Linked DNA regions of Homo sapiens. Changing the gene in region 4 together with the main gene of any one other region gives a genetic interaction. Each region holds a gene or a part of one and is shown on either strand. Other genes may lie near its edges. The genes, in order: SEC22B, EIF4G1, EXOSC6, MRPL22 and ACTL6A.

Region 1 (3,655 bases), on a different chromosome or scaffold from region 4:
TCTGAAAAGTAATTTTCTCTAGTCTTTTGATCTTTCCCCCATAGAAATTGTTGCCTTTTGCCCTTTCTGTTATTTGGTTTGATTCTTCTTTAGAGTCACATGTGACAGGAACTGTGCCTAAAGATCTACTTGATTGGCATATAATGGCTGAGTTCTTCTTTACCCCAGTCCACAGACTCACACTCACAATAAGGCTCATTTTATGGAGATCAGAATTGGGAAATCAGAAAGAATGATGTTTTGTTTCTTTTAGTAGAATAAGATCCTCTAATTAAAAAAACAAAACATAACAAAGAAATAGAAGATACCTGGTACTCATGGTATTGGGGTATAATATTTACTACATTCAGGAATAGTGAGCATAGGTGTCTGTATTTGTGCAAGAATTATAGAAAGACTAATTACTAATCAGACCTGGTAAAGTATCTGATGGTAAGGGATCAAAGGAAATGTCCTAAGTACAGTAAGTACAGGGAGTGAGAACAAGTAGGATCAGGCTATATCGCTGAAATTTTTAGTTAAAAGAGAAATTGGTTTTACTGGCTTAGAATTTTTGAAGTGTTTCAAGTTTGCTAGATAAATGGGTCATCTTGCTTTGGAAAAACACTCTAGTGTTTCATAACTATATACTCTCCAAGTGCTGCTTTATATAATGTCCAGTTTTTCAAATTTTATTTTTATAGACAGTAATACTCCCATAAACCTCCCTCAAAAATAAGACAAATGTATCAGGGTCATACAGGAAACAGATGGCACACCCAAATTAGCTTAAGGGATTATATACAAAGATATGACTAGGCTGTAGGAGAATTACAAGGTACAGTAACCTCTGACCAGTAGCATACTGGTTGTTACCATCCCTAGGCCTGAATGTATAAGGGGGAGGAGCAGTTTCTGAAACTGAAAAGGAGAAAATTTCTAGAGAAGGCCAACTTGAGAGGAGCGTAACTTTTGGTAGAGGGATACTTCCAGAAGAAGGTTATTTCCTTCTCTGAAAGAAGCCAGGGGAATAAATACCCGGACATCACTCACTGTCTGTTCTCCTTCTTCCCTACTGTTGGGGCTTCTTCATTGCCTGAACCTAACTGGCACAGAGCAAGGAGTCTTGAGGCGCTTCATCCAAGTCAGCTTCCCAGTGCAGAAAGCAAGGTGCAGGAGGGCAGAGAGGAGATCTAAAGAGGCAAATGAAAGGGGTACAGCACACTTAAATTAAGATTTTTGCCAAAAGTTGAAAATATCTTTAATAATAAGTCATTCTTCCTATAGTTTTGAGAAATACTGATATGAGCAAAAGATGGATGAGACTTCAGTTTTTATTTATTTATTTATTTACTTAGAGACAGAGTCTCGCTCTATTGCCCAGGCTGGGGTGCAGTGGCATGATTTTGGCTAACTGCAACCTCTGCCTCCTAGGTTCAAGTGATTCTTGTGCCTCAGCCTCCTGAATAGCTGGGACTAGAGGTGCACGCTGCCATGACCAGCTAGCTAATTTCGGTATTTTTGGTAGAGATGGGAGTTTTGCCTTGTTGGCCAGGCTGGTCTCGAATTCCTGGCCTCAAGTGATCCACCCATCTTGGCCTCCCAAAATGCTGGGATTTATACGTGTGAGACACAGTGCCTGGCCGAGACTTCAGTTCAGTTTTGTATTGGTATTTTGGAAAACTCCCTATTACATATTTGCTTTACCTGAGGTTTAAGAATGGAATGAAACTGGGAATGTATATTAGAGAAAAGGTAAAGTTTCTCAGCTTTTTAATGATCATGAACCCTTTTGCCATGTTAGGCTGTAATAATGCTAGAGTGTTACCAGCATCCTTTTAAGGAATGTGTAGAGGTAAGTAACACTTAGCCTAAGGGTCCTCAGAATACTGTTTGAAAATTTCTGTTTTCAGGAAAGGCTTACTATAGTGGGTCTTAATTTCTCTAAGGATTCTGATAGCAGCCTTAGATAGCAAATACTTCTAATTCAAAGGTATTCAAAGGACATTTCTCCTGAATGGTCGTCTAATTATACCTTTACATCTTACAAATGAAATAATCAAAGCCTAGATTTTGATATTCAACCAAGAGTTTGGTTAACCATGGACAGTGGCAAATCCAGGAATAAACTCAGAACTGTTTTGGTTTTTTTTTTTTTGTTTTTGAGACAGAGTCTTGCTCTGTCACCCAGGCTAAAGTGTGGTGGTGGTGTGATCTCGGCTCACTGCAACCTCTGCCTCCCAAGTTCAAGTGATTCTCCTGGCTCAGCCTCCTGAGTAGCTGGGATTATAGGCGTGTGCCGCCACGCCTGGCTAACTTTTTATATTTTTAGTAGAGACGGGGTTTCACTGTGTTAGCCAGGATGGTCTCGATTTCCTGACCTCATGATTCACCTGCCTTGGCCTCCCAAAGTGCTGGGATTACAGGTGTGAGCCACCGCGCCTGGCCAACTCAGAACTTTTAATCTCCTACCTCAGTACTTTGATGGCCATGAAAGAAATGGTCAGTTTTCTTCATCATTCTAGATACTTTCATTCAGAAAACCAAGAAGCTCTACATTGACAGTCGTGCTCGAAGAAATCTAGGCTCCATCAACACTGAATTGCAAGATGTGCAGAGGATCATGGTGGCCAATATTGAAGAAGTGTTACAACGAGGAGAAGCACTCTCAGGTATCTAAAAGCAATGAGTCTTATGAAGAAATGGTTCTCATTCCATAGACAAGGATAGCTTATTTTGCAGTGCCTTTTATGCTATTAGATTCTACCTAGAACTGTTAAGAATTTATCTCCCAGAAGTACATTACATTACAATGCTTCCAATATATTTTTTTTCCTAGCATGATTAGTTTTTGTTGAGTTGGAACAGTGTAAAGGACTCATCCATATTAGAAGCAATGATTATTTCTAAGATATTCACAAAATTAATTAAATTATATAACTTGTATAAATTAAGGGAAATGAATGAGAGAAAACTCAATGATGTATTGCAGTGGTTTTTTGAGTAGCCTCTTTGGGAGACTTTACTGCTGCCAGATCAATCTTTATAAAATGCCATTTTCATCAAGGCATTCCTCTGAAAAACTTTTAAATCTGGGACTACAAGATAAGATCCAGTCTGACTTATTTTTCCGTCAGTCAGCCATTGTTATTGAGAGCTTGTTATTTGTAAGGCATTGTGCTCTACATATGGAAAATAAGGAAGATGCAAATGTCTGTCATTCTCTAGTTCACAAACATTCTTCTGTAGCCACACCAGCTTCTTTACTATCCTTAGTGGTCTATTCTGCCTTATGCTGGACCTGTTCTGTAAGACCTCCATAAGAACTGTCTCTTTAAAGAACCTTTCTCTGATCCTTATAGCCTGTATCACATTAATCTCTTCTGTACTTTAAACTCCTAAAGCACTTAATAACATAATGGTTTTAGCACATATTACATGTATGTGTGTTTACCTAATTTACCTTAAATATATTTATTAAATACCTCTTACCATATTAAATATATATTTAATATATATTAAATATATTTCCATATAACATAAGTATATATTTCATATATTTATATTAAAGTAGGCAAACATATTTGGATAATTAAATATTTTTATATAATTTCGTATATTTTTTTGAGACAGAGTCTTGTTCTGTTGCCCAGGCTGGAGTGCAATGGCACGATCT
Region 2 (3,655 bases), on a different chromosome or scaffold from region 4:
GAGAATGATGACTTAGATTTCAGGTTGTGGGATTTTGAGGGTGAATTGGGTTTTGGATGAAAGTGGAAGTATAGCTTAGGTGGGGAGAAGATGATGCGGGGTTATTAAGTTGGGAATGCCTGGGCTGGAGGATGGGGAGGAACAACAGCAGTTAAGCACTTGCCTTTAGTTGCTCATTCTTCCTTCCTATGGTGCAGATGACCGGTCACAGGGAGCAATCATTGCTGACCGGCCAGGGCTGCCTGGCCCAGAGCATAGCCCTTCAGAATCCCAGCCTTCGTCGCCTTCTCCGACCCCATCACCATCCCCAGTCTTGGAACCGGGGTCTGAGCCTAATCTCGCAGTCCTCTCTATTCCTGGGGACACTATGACAACTATACAAATGTCTGTAGAAGAATCAACCCCCATCTCCCGTGAAACTGGGGAGCCATATCGCCTCTCTCCAGAACCCACTCCTCTCGCCGAACCCATACTGGAAGTAGAAGTGACACTTAGCAAACCGGTTCCAGAATCTGAGTTTTCTTCCAGTCCTCTCCAGGCTCCCACCCCTTTGGCATCTCACACAGTGGAAATTCATGAGCCTAATGGCATGGTCCCATCTGAAGATCTGGAACCAGAGGTGGAGTCAAGCCCAGAGCTTGCTCCTCCCCCAGCTTGCCCCTCCGAATCCCCTGTGCCCATTGCTCCAACTGCCCAACCTGAGGAACTGCTCAACGGAGCCCCCTCGCCACCAGCTGTGGACTTAAGCCCAGTCAGTGAGCCAGAGGAGCAGGCCAAGGAGGTGACAGCATCAATGGCGCCCCCCACCATCCCCTCTGCTACTCCAGCTACGGCTCCTTCAGCTACTTCCCCAGCTCAGGAGGAGGAAATGGAAGAAGAAGAAGAAGAGGAAGAAGGAGAAGCAGGAGAAGCAGGAGAAGCTGAGAGTGAGAAAGGAGGAGAGGAACTGCTCCCCCCAGAGAGTACCCCTATTCCAGCCAACTTGTCTCAGAATTTGGAGGCAGCAGCAGCCACTCAAGGTAAGGTGTGGTTGGACGGTAGAGGTAGGGCGGGCTAGGGGATATCGTTCCTTGCCCTCCTTGATGACCGCCCATTTTTGACATGTTTCTGGGTCCCTGCAATGGAATCTAAGAACTAGATTAAGGACTTTTAAGCCTAAAAAGGGTGATGCAAAGGGGAAATACTGTTCTTTGGCTGCTTTCTATTTCCCAGGGATTAAGGGTACTCCTTAAATTATTGGCAAAGATCCATGCTTTTATTTATTTATTTTTAATTAGTGGCAGTATCTGTGCCAAAGAGGAGACGGAAAATTAAGGAGCTAAATAAGAAGGAGGCTGTTGGAGACCTTCTGGATGCCTTCAAGGAGGTAAGGGAGCAGAAAATGGGAGGGGAGAGGGCCAAGTTGAGGTATGGAGCAGTGGTCATTCTGCAACCAAAACTGGATGTTCTGTTGTTCTAGGCGAACCCGGCAGTACCAGAGGTGGAAAATCAGCCTCCTGCAGGCAGCAATCCAGGCCCAGAGTCTGAGGGCAGTGGTGTGCCCCCACGTCCTGAGGAAGCAGATGAGACCTGGGACTCAAAGGAAGACAAAATTCACAATGCTGAGAACATCCAGCCCGGGGAACAGAAGTATGAATATAAGTCAGGTATGCTGAAGAAAGGGTTGAGAATGGCTTGAGTTTTCTTATTAGGGCCAGAGGAGGCAGTATGATTGCTTCATTCTGTTTTCCTTGCAGATCAGTGGAAGCCTCTAAACCTAGAGGAGAAAAAACGTTACGACCGTGAGTTCCTGCTTGGTTTTCAGTTCATCTTTGCCAGTATGCAGAAGCCAGAGGGATTGCCACATATCAGTGACGTGGTGCTGGACAAGGTTAGTGGCTTCAGTTGGGGAGGGGACGATAAGTTTGTGCTGGATGGATTGGGGAGGAGCCTGAGGTCCTGAAAGAGTAGTCAACCGCTCTAGCCTGCTTCTGAGACCTTTTCCTGTCCTCTTTGCAGGCCAATAAAACACCACTGCGGCCACTGGATCCCACTAGACTACAAGGCATAAATTGTGGCCCAGACTTCACTCCATCCTTTGCCAACCTTGGCCGGACAACCCTTAGCACCCGTGGGCCCCCAAGGGGTGGGCCAGGTGGGGAGCTGCCCCGTGGGCCGGTGAGTGGGGCTGGGTAAAGTGGCAGGTGGGCAAGGAGTGGGAGTGGATGATTCCGTGTCTCAGTGCCCGCGGGGAGGGGTTTGCCCTGGAGGCGTGTAGTAGTGGTGTCACATATTGTGCTGACTAGTTCCATGTCCCCTCTTGTCTTCATCCCTTGCTTAGCAGGCTGGCCTGGGACCCCGGCGCTCTCAGCAGGGACCCCGAAAAGAACCACGCAAGATCATTGCCACAGTGTTAATGACCGAAGATATAAAACTGAACAAAGCAGAGAAAGCCTGGAAACCCAGCAGCAAGCGGACGGCGGCTGATAAGGATCGAGGGGAAGAAGATGCTGATGGCAGCAAAACCCAGGTACTGGCAAGTCCTGCTTTTGGTCTCTCTCCATTTCTTCTCCAGGTCTGCCATCTGTGCCCTCTTTGCTTCTTTTTGTCCTTATCACTAGCATCTGTCATGCCTAAGTCCCCACCACCCTCTCCTGTCCCTCCCAACAGCCTGTTCTGAGACCCTCACTGGAACTCTTGTCTCTTCTCCCTCCAGGACCTATTCCGCAGGGTGCGCTCCATCCTGAATAAACTGACACCCCAGATGTTCCAGCAGCTGATGAAGCAAGTGACGCAGCTGGCCATCGACACCGAGGAACGCCTCAAAGGGGTCATTGACCTCATTTTTGAGAAGGCCATTTCAGAGCCCAACTTCTCTGTGGCCTATGCCAACATGTGCCGCTGCCTCATGGCGGTTAGTTTCCAGTGGGTTCTAAATCTAATGGTCTGGTTGCCCATTCCTATTCCCAAGACTCCTTGAGTCCAGCTTCTTGGTTCCCCTCCAACTTGTGCCTCTTCCAGCTGGAAGGAGGCAGAGCTGGGGCCAGAGATCTTCCTGGGTCAGGTAGTTAAAGGCTCTTGGAGGGCCTTCCCTGCCCAGGACTAGTCTTGAGTGTGACATTCTCTCTGACCTACAGCTGAAAGTGCCCACTACGGAAAAGCCAACAGTGACTGTGAACTTCCGAAAGCTGTTGTTGAATCGATGTCAGAAGGAGTTTGAGAAAGACAAAGATGATGATGAGGTTTTTGAGAAGAAGCAAAAAGAGATGGATGAAGCTGCTACGGTGAGAGAAAACCCACTATCGATTCCACTCACCACTTACCTCCTTCCCTTACCCAGATGCTACTCAGCTGTAGAATTTGGAATGGAGGTAGTGGTGTCTTGGGGATTTCTCTGGCTCAGGACGTTTTTTTTCCTTTTTGAGACAGTCTTGCTCTGTCACCCAGGCTGGAGTGCAGTGGTGTGATCTTGGCTAGCCTCCACCTCCTGAGTTCAAGCGATTCTCCTGCCTCAGCCTCCCAAGTAGCTGGGATTACAGGCATGTGCCACCATACCTGGCTAATTTTTTTGTATTTTTAATAGAGACGGGGTTTTACCATGTTGGCCAAGCTGGTCTCAAACTCCTCCTGACCTCAAGTGATCCGCCTGCCTCAGCCTCCCAAATTGATGGGATTA
Region 3 (2,959 bases), on a different chromosome or scaffold from region 4:
TTAACCCTATTTCCTTTTTTAAAAAAATAACCAGAAAAACAATAAAATGTTACAAATAACTTGGATCTTCCATTGTCCACTTCAGGGTATTGCCACTGCAATATATTCTTACCATATACTTTTTCCTACCAGTACAAACTACAAATAACTTGGGTAAGTCCTGTCTGTACTTATTCTACCCACCTACTAGTAATTTCTTCTGAAAATATATATTTAGCTAACAAGTAATGTTCATTTACAATATAACATTTCTCTGAATTAGTTTTCTTGCATTATTAAAGAAATGTTATTGATAGATGGTCACTGGGGGACCACTGCTCCTCCCCGACAGTATTTAAATAACTGGTATAGGCTGCAAGACTTACCAGATACCTGCTGCGTGAGCGAAGGTTTCTGAGTATGATCTATATGCCATCCAACTAATATATCAACTGTATCCTTGATGGAAACAAAGAGAGAGGGGGCCAATCATTTTAAGATATTACTGCCATTCACCTGTGGACCATTCCACAGCAAAAGATCCTAAAAGGAGCATCTATGTTCTACCTACTCAACATTCTAGAAACTTAGAAAGGGGAGAGGGGCAGGAAAATAAAAGAACTACATTTCTGACAACAATGAAATAGTTTATTTTCTTCAAATATTTTAAGGTACGAACGTCAGAAATAAAAATGCAGCATTTAACCCTGGAACCTCAAATATCACTGATTATACTCAAAGGAGCAGAGGCATTGTTTTCCATCTGATTCCTCAGTTCCTCACACACACAACCATCCCCCTCACCCCATGATCTGAAAAGCGAAATGAGGAATTCACCCTAAAATTAGTGTGGAGAAAACAAGCAAATTAGGTTATTTACTAAGTGACTACATAAAAAACTGAGTATGAGACCAAGAAAAATAGATTCTGTAGTTTTAGTTAAAAAAAAAATTGACTTGTAAATCCCAACTACTCGGGAGGCTGAGACACAAGAATCGCTTGAACCCAGGAGGCAGAGGTTGCAGTGAGCTGAGATTGCACCGCTGCACTCCAGCCTGGACAATACAGCCAGACTCCATCTCAAAAAAAAAAATAATTAATAAATAAATAAAATAAATATACTGAAAATATTTCACTCCACTAAGATGTTAAGCTAAAAACAAATACTGTTTTCTCTTCTTCAATGTTTGTTAACATTAGTCCTTAATAACATCTGTTTACAATATCCCTAAATGCTCTCTTTAAGATTCCACCTGTGATTAAATTTCAAATACAAAAAAGTAAAACGGATTTGGGAAACTTTTCTATAAAGTACAGCAATTAATTTGCAATCCAAAATATAAAGCAAATTTTATATAATTTATGCTTTACTATATTAGTACTTGCTTCACATTAAAATTAAAGATCAGTATGGCACCACACATGAATAACATGCAGGCTCAGGTTACCATTATACATAAATTTTTAAAATAAATATATGGCAAAAATAATAATTGTCATTCCATTGAAAGAATATTTATTTTGCAGCTGTTAAAAGACATTTTTCCCTAAAAAAAGAAAAGCTGTGCTTTACATAGCAATCTTATAAAAGAAATGCTAGAATCAGAAAACCATCATTTTAGGCTGGGTGCAGTGGCTCACACCTGTAACCCCAGCACTTTGGGAGGACGAGGCAGGTGGATCACTTGAGGTCAGGAGTTCAAGACCAGTCTGGCCAGCTCGATGAAACTCCGTCTCTACTAAAAATATAAAAATTAGCAGAGCACAGTGGCACCTGCCTGTAATCCCAGCTACTCAGGAGGGTGAAGCATGAGAACTGCTTGAACCTGGGAGGCGGAGGTTGCAGTGAGCCGAGATTGTGCCACTGCCCTCCAGCTTGGACAATAGAGCAAGATTTCGTCTCAAAAAAAAAGAGAAAAAGAAAACCATTATTTTGCAATAGCCAATGTTATAATCTACACAGGCACAGACTATCAATGCTAAAAATCATTTAAAAGACATCTTAGGGGTAATTACAGAAATTTGAATATAGAACACATATGTAATAAAATTCATTTTCTTAGGTATGATTACAATATTCTTGTTATACAGAAGAAAAACCTTATTCTTGGGAGATGCAAACTAAAACATTATGGGTTGAACTGTCATCATGTGTATGGTTTTCAGATGCTCAACAAAAGTGTGTGAGAAAATAAAACTGGCAAAATATTAGTAACTGGTAAATCTAGGTGAAGCATATTATTATGAAATTATTATCGTATTTACAGGTATTTATTTTACTGGTGCATCTATCTTTCTATGAATGTGAGAATTTTCACAAGAGCTGGGAAAATGTTCATAATTATGCATGCAGAATAAGCCCAAGCTGGTGGCATTCTGTTCAGTTACAGGTAATTTTCTGAATCTTCCCTCAAATTTTTCTCAAACCTCTATAATCAAGGGGAAAAATGTTTTGTTTTGCTTTGCTTTTTTGAGATAGGGTTGCCTATAATGGAGTGCAGTAGCTTGACCATAGCTCACTGTAGCTTCAACCTCCCAGGCACAAGCGATCCTCCTGCCTCAGCCTTCAAGTAGCTGGGACTACAGGTGCATACCACCATGCCTGACTTATTTTTTTTCCTTTTTTTTTTTTTTTTTTTTTTTTGATAGAAACAGGGTTTCACCTTGTTGCCCAGGCTGGTCTCAAACTCCTGGACTCAGGCGATTCACCAGCCTCAGCCTCCCACAGTGCTGGGGTTACAGGAGTGAGCCACCATGCCCAGTTAAAAATACACTTTTTATTTAAAAAAAAAAGAGAACACTCCTTATATTTCCTTTATATTTTGTAAACTACATACCCAAAATAAAGCATATCAAAAACTGTAAAAAAAAAAAAAAAAAACCCTAATATCAGATATTCCAGACACAACAATACCATAATTTAATCACTTAAAATCTTACTCAAAACTAAATCAATGATCTTTTAGGCCAGGTGTGGTGG
Region 4 (3,655 bases):
TGGTGAAATCCCATCTCTACTAAAAATACAAAAATATTAGCCGCGTATGGTGGCGCGCAGCTGTAGTCCCAGCTACTCGGGAGGCTGAGGCAGAAGAATCGCTTGAACGCAGGAGGCGGAGACTGCAGTGAGCCAAGATGGCGCCACTGCACCCCAGCCTGTGCAACAGAGCTAGACTCCGTCTCAAAAAAAAAAAAAAAAAAAAGAAAAATATATGTAATAAAAAAAGAATATTCATGTTCCTAGAAAGAGTCACCACAATTACCATCAGCACATTTGTATCTAGTGAATTAGCTACATTTAGAGTTGGAAGGATCTTTAGGGGTCATCTAATCCAATTCCACATAGTTTAGGTGAGAAAAATAGAAACTGACTGGTTAAGTGTCTTGCCCACGGTCACAAGAAAAAGATCAGAGAAAGGACTAGAGTCCAAGTCTCTTGAGTTCCAGTCCAGGGCTCTTTCCATTTAGTTACAAAATTACTTAGTTATAAAAACTCTCCTTTATAGGAAAAAAAAAATCTTCAAAAAAATATACCTTGAAGTTCAGCCTTGCTCCAAGAAATAAATTATATACACAAACACACATACATACACACAAATACACACATATACGTACCAAGCCCCAAATCATTAAAAATAAGATTCATCACATCATAAGCAGTAAAAAACAGATAAATATTTGGTGGAAATAAAAGCACCTCAGGAAATAAACCCTAAAGCACACAACATTCCTAAAGTATACACATATTTAATAAACTGAGAACCCTAAATCTGTATTATATAAAGTATGCATTTACAACAGAAAATTTAGGGAATTCATGATTTAGGCTAAGCTTACTAATAATTGCAAGACAGCTGCATTCCCCAGTTCCCCATTCCCTACCACACCCAAACTTGTAAGTTTACCTCTTTAATTATTTTGGCCCCTTTTTTGTCATTGAATTCCAACTGAGCCAAAGCCTGGTCAATAGACATTCCTCGTATCTAGAATTAAAGGGTGAGAGACAAAAGAAAATAAATTAGTTTACAAAGTCAATGTTTCCTTTTCAATGAAAGTCTTACATAATTTGAGTAACTTCTAAAAACAGTGAATTGAACCCAAATAAAAGAGAAGAAAACAAGTTTGAGAGGAGACACTATTCTCTTTCAGTCAAAATGAAACAAACATTTTAACCATAAAACTGAGATTATAATAGTTTCAATAACATTAAAAGACAGCAAACATGACAGAGAGACCACAGGTTGGTAACAACCACACTAGGCATTCAAGGCATCTCCTTCTCCTATAGGATAAATGTATTACATGTATATTTGCTGCTTCAGTCTCCCCTCATCTATAAATTTCATTTCCTAGGGAAAAAAACTTAAAAGCAACAGTTTTAAAACAGGTTGAATCAAGTTTACAGATAAATAGGTGGGTTTCCTGGATTCTCTGGTTATAGCCAAACTCCTGATGCCTTTTAGTATCTATCTATCCAATGTGATTTAGTTTCTCAGAAAAAGGTGAAAATTAAGGAAAATCATACATCTCTGAACAATCATTCTTTTGACAACCTACCAATTATATCACATTCCTCACAAATCTTTTTTATTTTTCAAATCCTGGGGTGAGGGGTGGGGAGGGGAACTCATAGCTTCTTTCCTAAATTATTAATTATATGGTAATAGTCATTGCAGCTTACCAATTTTGCCAAATACCACATCTTGTCTTTGCTATATTTTATTTGTCTTCGACAGTGGTAGATTTCCTTACAAATTGGAAAAAAAAGGACAGAAAGAAAATGTTAGCAGGTTTACCACAAAATGACAATAACATATACTGTTATTTAAGTTTTTACTTTCTAGGCCTAAAGAAAATGCTGCCATAAGAAATAGAAACATTACTAAGAATTTAGAGATTATTTTCCCCTACACAAAGTTGTATTTTTCCAAAGTCTCACTATGTTAAAAGATTACTACGGGAGAAATAGAAACTATACAATGGCTGGTTTGTGTCAACACTTGCAACATTTCTATCCAAAGAAATCCTAAAAGATTTAAATGAAAGTATCTTTAAAACATTTAGCTGATTAAAAGAACAAAAGAAAAAGTACAAGAAAACGTTCATTATTAATGAGGAGAAAAATGGCAAAATGGACAAGTGTTTTCATGTGAAAAGCCAATATTCTAGGTGTTTGGCCAACAGCATAGGTTCTAGAATCAGACTGCCTGCCTGGATTTGAATCCTAACTCTGCCATTTACTAGCTACATAATCTTGAGCAAGCTACTTAACCTCTCTCTAATTTTCCTCTTCTGTAAAATAAATAAAACGATAATTAGAGGGAAATAAAGTAACCTATTTCAAGAAACCATTTTATAGTGCTTGGCACATGGTAACTTCTCAGTAAATGTTAGCTTTTATTATCTTCTATTTAAAGTTGTAGGTATGTCCTGTTTAATTACAATGTATAGTTCAAAAAGCACTTTTCACTCATTATTTCATTTAGTCTAACTCTATGAGTTGAGGGATGAAACATTTTACATATAAACTGAAAATCAGAGAAATCAAGTGACTTGTCTAAGACCAGAGGTTTGCAAGAGACAAAGTTGGAATTCAAAGAACAGAGAAGTATGATACACCTGATACAATGTCTAGCACATCTACTTTCAAAAGTTCCTCTATTGACTCTAAAACCCACTTTCTTTCCACTACTATACCAAACTGCCATTTAAAAAAAAATTAGAAAACATGTGTTATGGAAAACTATAGCAAGGAGGTCTCAAAACTTTCTAACATTCTGACTCCTGCTGGAAATTTTCAAATGCCTTAGAAAGAGCAGTTTTCTCAAGTGGCCATCTTTTAATATGTGGCAGATTTCAGTTGCAATAGAAGCAGACAGCCTGAAACTATAGCAATAGCCTAATTACATTTTCAGCAATAAAGTTTCTTGGGGAGACAGGGAGAGGAAAGAACTATCATGACTGATAATAATAATCTGCAAAAATTAATCCACTCAATGAAATCTTTCATATAGAAGAGACCCTTGGCCGGGAGCAGTGGCTCAGCCTGTAATCCCAGCACTTTGGGAGGCCGAGGCGGCCGGATCACAAGGTCAGGAGATCGAGACCATCCTGTGAATGGTGAAACCCCGTCTCTACTAAAAATACAAAAAAAAAAAATTAGCCGGGCATGGTGGCCGGCGCCTGTGGTCCCAGCTACCCGGGAGGCTGAGGCGGGAGAATGCCATGAACCCGGGAGGTGGAGCTTGTAGTGAGCTGAGATTGCGCCACTGCACTCCAGCCTGGGCGACAGAGCGAGACTCCGTCTCAAAAAAATAAAAATAAAAAAGAAGAGACCCTTTAATTTGTGCATTCTTGTGGTGGGATAATTTTAAACCTTAATTTTGTATGATTACCCTCAAATTTTACACATATAAACAATGGTAATCCTGACCAGAGGATGGCAAAAAGGAAGAAGTGTTTACAAGAAAGGCAAAAGTTAATCATCCTCTTCCAAAACTGAAAAAAAACCTCAGCATTTACTTTGGGCAGGTGAAATGTCTAAGGGCACTTTCTAAAGATAAACGAGACAAAGTCTCAGTACGTATCAAGCAAATAAAGTAACAAAGGTGGAGGTCAGAAGACCTAGTTATATATCTCTGCCATTAACTGAC
Region 5 (3,655 bases), on a different chromosome or scaffold from region 4:
AGAAGAATTGTATGGCCTTCTGATGATACTACTGCTGGATTTATAAAAAAAAAAAAAAAAGAAAGAATTGTATGGTCTAGACCCGACACTCAAAAAAACTTACAATCTATTTGGAAAAAGACTAAAAGACATGTTAAAAATTCAAAGAAGAGCATCTGTCTTCAATTTGGCTTCCACCTAAACATTCCATTAAAACTACTGACATAAGTCACTAATGACCTTCTTTTTTCTTTTTTTTGAGATGGAGTCTCGTTCTGTCCCCCACACTGGAGTGCAATGGCACAATCTCAGCTCACTGCAACCTCCGCCTCCTGGGGTCAAGCAATTCTCCTCCCTCAGGCTCCCGAGTAGCTGGGATTACAGGTGCCCGCCACCGTACCCAACTAATTTTTGCATTTTTAGTAGAGACAGGGTTTCACCATGTTGGCCAGGCTGGTCTCGAACTCCTGACCTCAGGTGATCCACCCACCTCAGCCTCCAAAGTGCTGGGATTACAGGCGTGAGCCACCGCCCCCAGCCACTAATGACCTTCTACTAGGCAAATTCATGGATACTTAACATTTTTAATCTCATCTGACTTCTCTAAATTATGACAGTATTGCCTACACAAGAGTTTACAAACTTTTCTGTCACAGCCCAAAGAAAAAATGTCATTAATTATATATTTCCACAGGCCCACCTGGATTTTTTTAACTTCTTTCTTAGTGTAAAGCTTTCAATGTCACAGCAGAAAACACCGAGAATAACTGGAATTTTATGCTTCCAGAAACTTTTTCTTTTCTTGTTCTTCCCCTGCTTTTTTTCCTACATCCCTAATTGTTCCCTTTCTTTCTCCTTCAAGGGTACCTTTTATTCTCTATTGGTTAAAATATACAACAAGTTTTTGCTAGAACTCCATCTTCAATCCTCTTCTCATGTTCCAATTTTTTTCAGAGTAATAAAATGCAACTCCATGTCTTAAAATCTTTCTTATAACCTTTTATTCCCGTTTACTGAATTATCACCTGGATGTTCTAAGTACTTTGAACTCAGTGAACCCATTTACTTACTACACATGAAAGAGTTAACACTGCAAGCCTGAGAAAGGCCTGCTTGTAAGGCTGACTCTTAGCTGGTGTCTGGAAACATGACTGGCAAACAGTTCCCTATGTTCATATAAAACTTGTCCCTAAATGGTAAGGGTAGCTCGCTATACCTACACTGTTTATACAATGTGGTTTGTTCTGAACACTTGCTTTCCTTCTGAGAATCTAAAATTTTGTTACATGCCAGGTAGATGGTACCTACATAACCAGCCCTCTGTAAAATCCTTGGGTACTGAGCCTCAGAGTTCTCCTGGAAGGTAACACAGATCATAACTTGTTGCTGGAGGGATTAAGCACATCCTGTGTGACTCCACTGTGAGAAGACTCTCCAAAGCCTGTATCTGGACTTCATCATCCCCTGTCCCTTTTCCCTTTGTCGATTTTGTTTTGTATCTGAATCTTCAGTACAATAAATCTTAGCTGTGAATACAACCATATGCTGAGTCCTGTGAGTGAGTCTTGCTGGTGAATAATTGAACCTGAGAGTGATTTTGGCTATCCCTGATAAGCTTGTTTTTTTTTTTTGTTTTTTTTTTTGAGACAGAGTCTCACTCTGTCACCCAGGTTGGTGTGTAGTCATGAGATCTCAGCTGCAACCTCTGCATCCTGGGTTCAAGTGATTCTCATGCCTCAGCCTCCCAAGTAGCTGGAATTACAGGTGGTACGCATCACCACACCTGTCAAATTTTTGTATTTTTAGTAGAGATGGGGTTTCGCCATGTTGCCCAGGCTGGTCTCAAACTCCTAGACTCAAGCAATCCACCCACAGTCTCAGCCTCCCAAAGTGCTGGGATTATATAGGCGCGAGCCACCACGCATGGCCAACCATGCCTTTTAAAACCGTAACACTTGCTCCTTCCCTTTATATTCCTATCTCAATGCATGGTACTCTCTGTTCAGAGTTACCCCAACCAAAAATCTAGGAAACTTTCTCAACTTCTCTCTTGCTTTCACTCCCTCGATCATTTAGTACCATTTGTCTCCTGGTTACCCTGAAAGTCCCTTCAGAATCTCTACCAGCATTATATAATAGTTTAAACCTTTTTCATTTCTCATCTGGACTCTGACCATCACATCTGTTTAAATTCCTTTGGGGTTATCCTTCAGTCACTAGCTTAATACAACCCTGGGATGGTTTACAAGCCCTTTTATGACTGCTCCCTGCCTACCTTTCCTGCTACTGCTCTCTGCCTACCTTTCCTGCTACTGACCCTAATAAGCCCAATGCTGCAACCATACTTAATTGTATTACATTTTCAAGCACATAAGTTTCTTTCACAATTCCATCCCTTCACACATGCTGGTCCCTTTGCTTTACCCAGCTTTGTCAGCCAAGCTAATTCTTACTCATTGATCAAGATTCATCATGTTACCTCCTTTGTGAAAACCATCACTGACTCCCAACACTAGAGTCAAATACCTCTCCTCTCTAATCCCATTGCTCATTGCACATACCTATATTGTACCACTTATCCCACAGTGTACCATTATTTGTATATATACATCTATTTCCCCCAACTAACTGTAAGCTTTTAATGAAAAGGAACATTTCTTATGCATCTTTGTATTCTCAGTGTCTGGAAATCAGTTTGTGGAATAAAAAACAAAACAAAACAAAAAACCATGGTTGATGTTCAACTTATAGGAAGCTACTACTTTGTATCTAAAATATAACATGTACACTCCATAATCAATTCCATGGGGAAAACATCATACCCATCCCATTTTTTAGAGGTGAAATGGCCTCCATATTCTCCCTCGGAACACGCAGAGCATTAGTATCTATGTAGTAGGTGGGACCGCCTTGTTTGCCTTTATCGCCATCTATTTCCATTAATGTGCTTCCGTCATCTCTTTCTACCACCATACCAATAGCTGTAGGAAAATCCACCTGTAAGAGTCAGAAACATGACATACAAGTTTCACCTTTCATCAAGAAGGCATTTTTTCCCCAATTAATGTATTTTATTATATTTTGTTTTGAATCAGAATTTCTGCATAAATTTAATTTACATGAATGGCTTTACATATCCAATTAACTCTAACATTACACTTACCTTGGGGCAGTCCTCACCAGCATAACCAGCTCTCACAGTATAGGATCCAATGTCAAAAACAAGGGCTCCAACTTCATCTGAAAAGATTAAAGATAATTAGCATTAACAGCTTGCAAAAGTATCATATGAAAATCACAGCTCACTGCAGCCTCAACCTCCTAGGCTCAAGCAATCCTCCCGCCTCAGTCTTCCAAATAGCTGGGACTACAATGAATTTCTTAAATTTTTTGTAGACATAAGGTCTCACTATGTTGCCCAGGCTGGACTCAAACTCCAGGGCTCAAGCAATCCTCTGCCTCAGCATCCCAAAGTGCTGCAGGCATGAGCCACTGCACTCAGCCCAATTATATTCATATTATTACTCACTTGAACCTAGTTTCAAATACACCTTAAAGAATCATTTAATTAAAATATAACAAGGCATACACCGTATTTAAGTAGAGGTTCAATCAGTTAAGAAATGGTACACTAAAACTGGGTAATTTCAGTTTACTTATTAAAGGGAATTATTTG

Evidence for each region.
Region 1: changes in MRPL22 (region 4) and SEC22B together harm fitness more than expected from each alone (negative genetic interaction), as found in Homo sapiens cells (one large-scale study listed by BioGRID).
Region 2: changes in MRPL22 (region 4) and EIF4G1 together harm fitness more than expected from each alone (negative genetic interaction), as found in Homo sapiens cells (one large-scale study listed by BioGRID).
Region 3: changes in MRPL22 (region 4) and EXOSC6 together harm fitness more than expected from each alone (negative genetic interaction), as found in Homo sapiens cells (one large-scale study listed by BioGRID).
Region 5: changes in MRPL22 (region 4) and ACTL6A together harm fitness more than expected from each alone (negative genetic interaction), as found in Homo sapiens cells (one large-scale study listed by BioGRID).

What each region holds. Positions count from the first base shown.
Region 1 is NC_000001.11:120,159,380-120,163,034, reverse strand, and holds part of SEC22B (vesicle-trafficking protein SEC22b), read left to right. Parts: intron 1-2,504; coding exon 2,505-2,651; intron 2,652-3,655. UniProt on the Homo sapiens protein: SNARE involved in targeting and fusion of ER-derived transport vesicles with the Golgi complex as well as Golgi-derived retrograde transport vesicles with the ER.
Region 2 is NC_000003.12:184,321,085-184,324,739, forward strand, and holds part of EIF4G1 (eukaryotic translation initiation factor 4 gamma 1), read left to right. Parts: intron 1-197; coding exon 198-1,019; intron 1,020-1,277; coding exon 1,278-1,366; intron 1,367-1,459; coding exon 1,460-1,646; intron 1,647-1,736; coding exon 1,737-1,870; intron 1,871-1,998; coding exon 1,999-2,157; intron 2,158-2,320; coding exon of another isoform or gene 2,321-2,323; coding exon 2,324-2,509; intron 2,510-2,695; coding exon 2,696-2,893; intron 2,894-3,116; coding exon 3,117-3,263; intron 3,264-3,655.
Region 3 is NC_000016.10:70,246,173-70,249,131, forward strand, and holds the end of EXOSC6 (exosome complex component MTR3), read right to left. Parts: 3' UTR 606-2,959; downstream 1-605. UniProt on the Homo sapiens protein: Non-catalytic component of the RNA exosome complex which has 3'->5' exoribonuclease activity and participates in a multitude of cellular RNA processing and degradation events.
Region 4 is NC_000005.10:154,954,465-154,958,119, reverse strand, and holds part of MRPL22 (large ribosomal subunit protein uL22m), read right to left. Parts: intron 1,750-3,655; coding exon 1,684-1,749; intron 986-1,683; coding exon 908-985; intron 1-907.
Region 5 is NC_000003.12:179,569,388-179,573,042, reverse strand, and holds part of ACTL6A (actin-like protein 6A), read right to left. Parts: intron 3,220-3,655; coding exon 3,143-3,219; intron 2,977-3,142; coding exon 2,802-2,976; intron 1,521-2,801; exon of another isoform or gene 1,273-1,520; intron 1-1,272.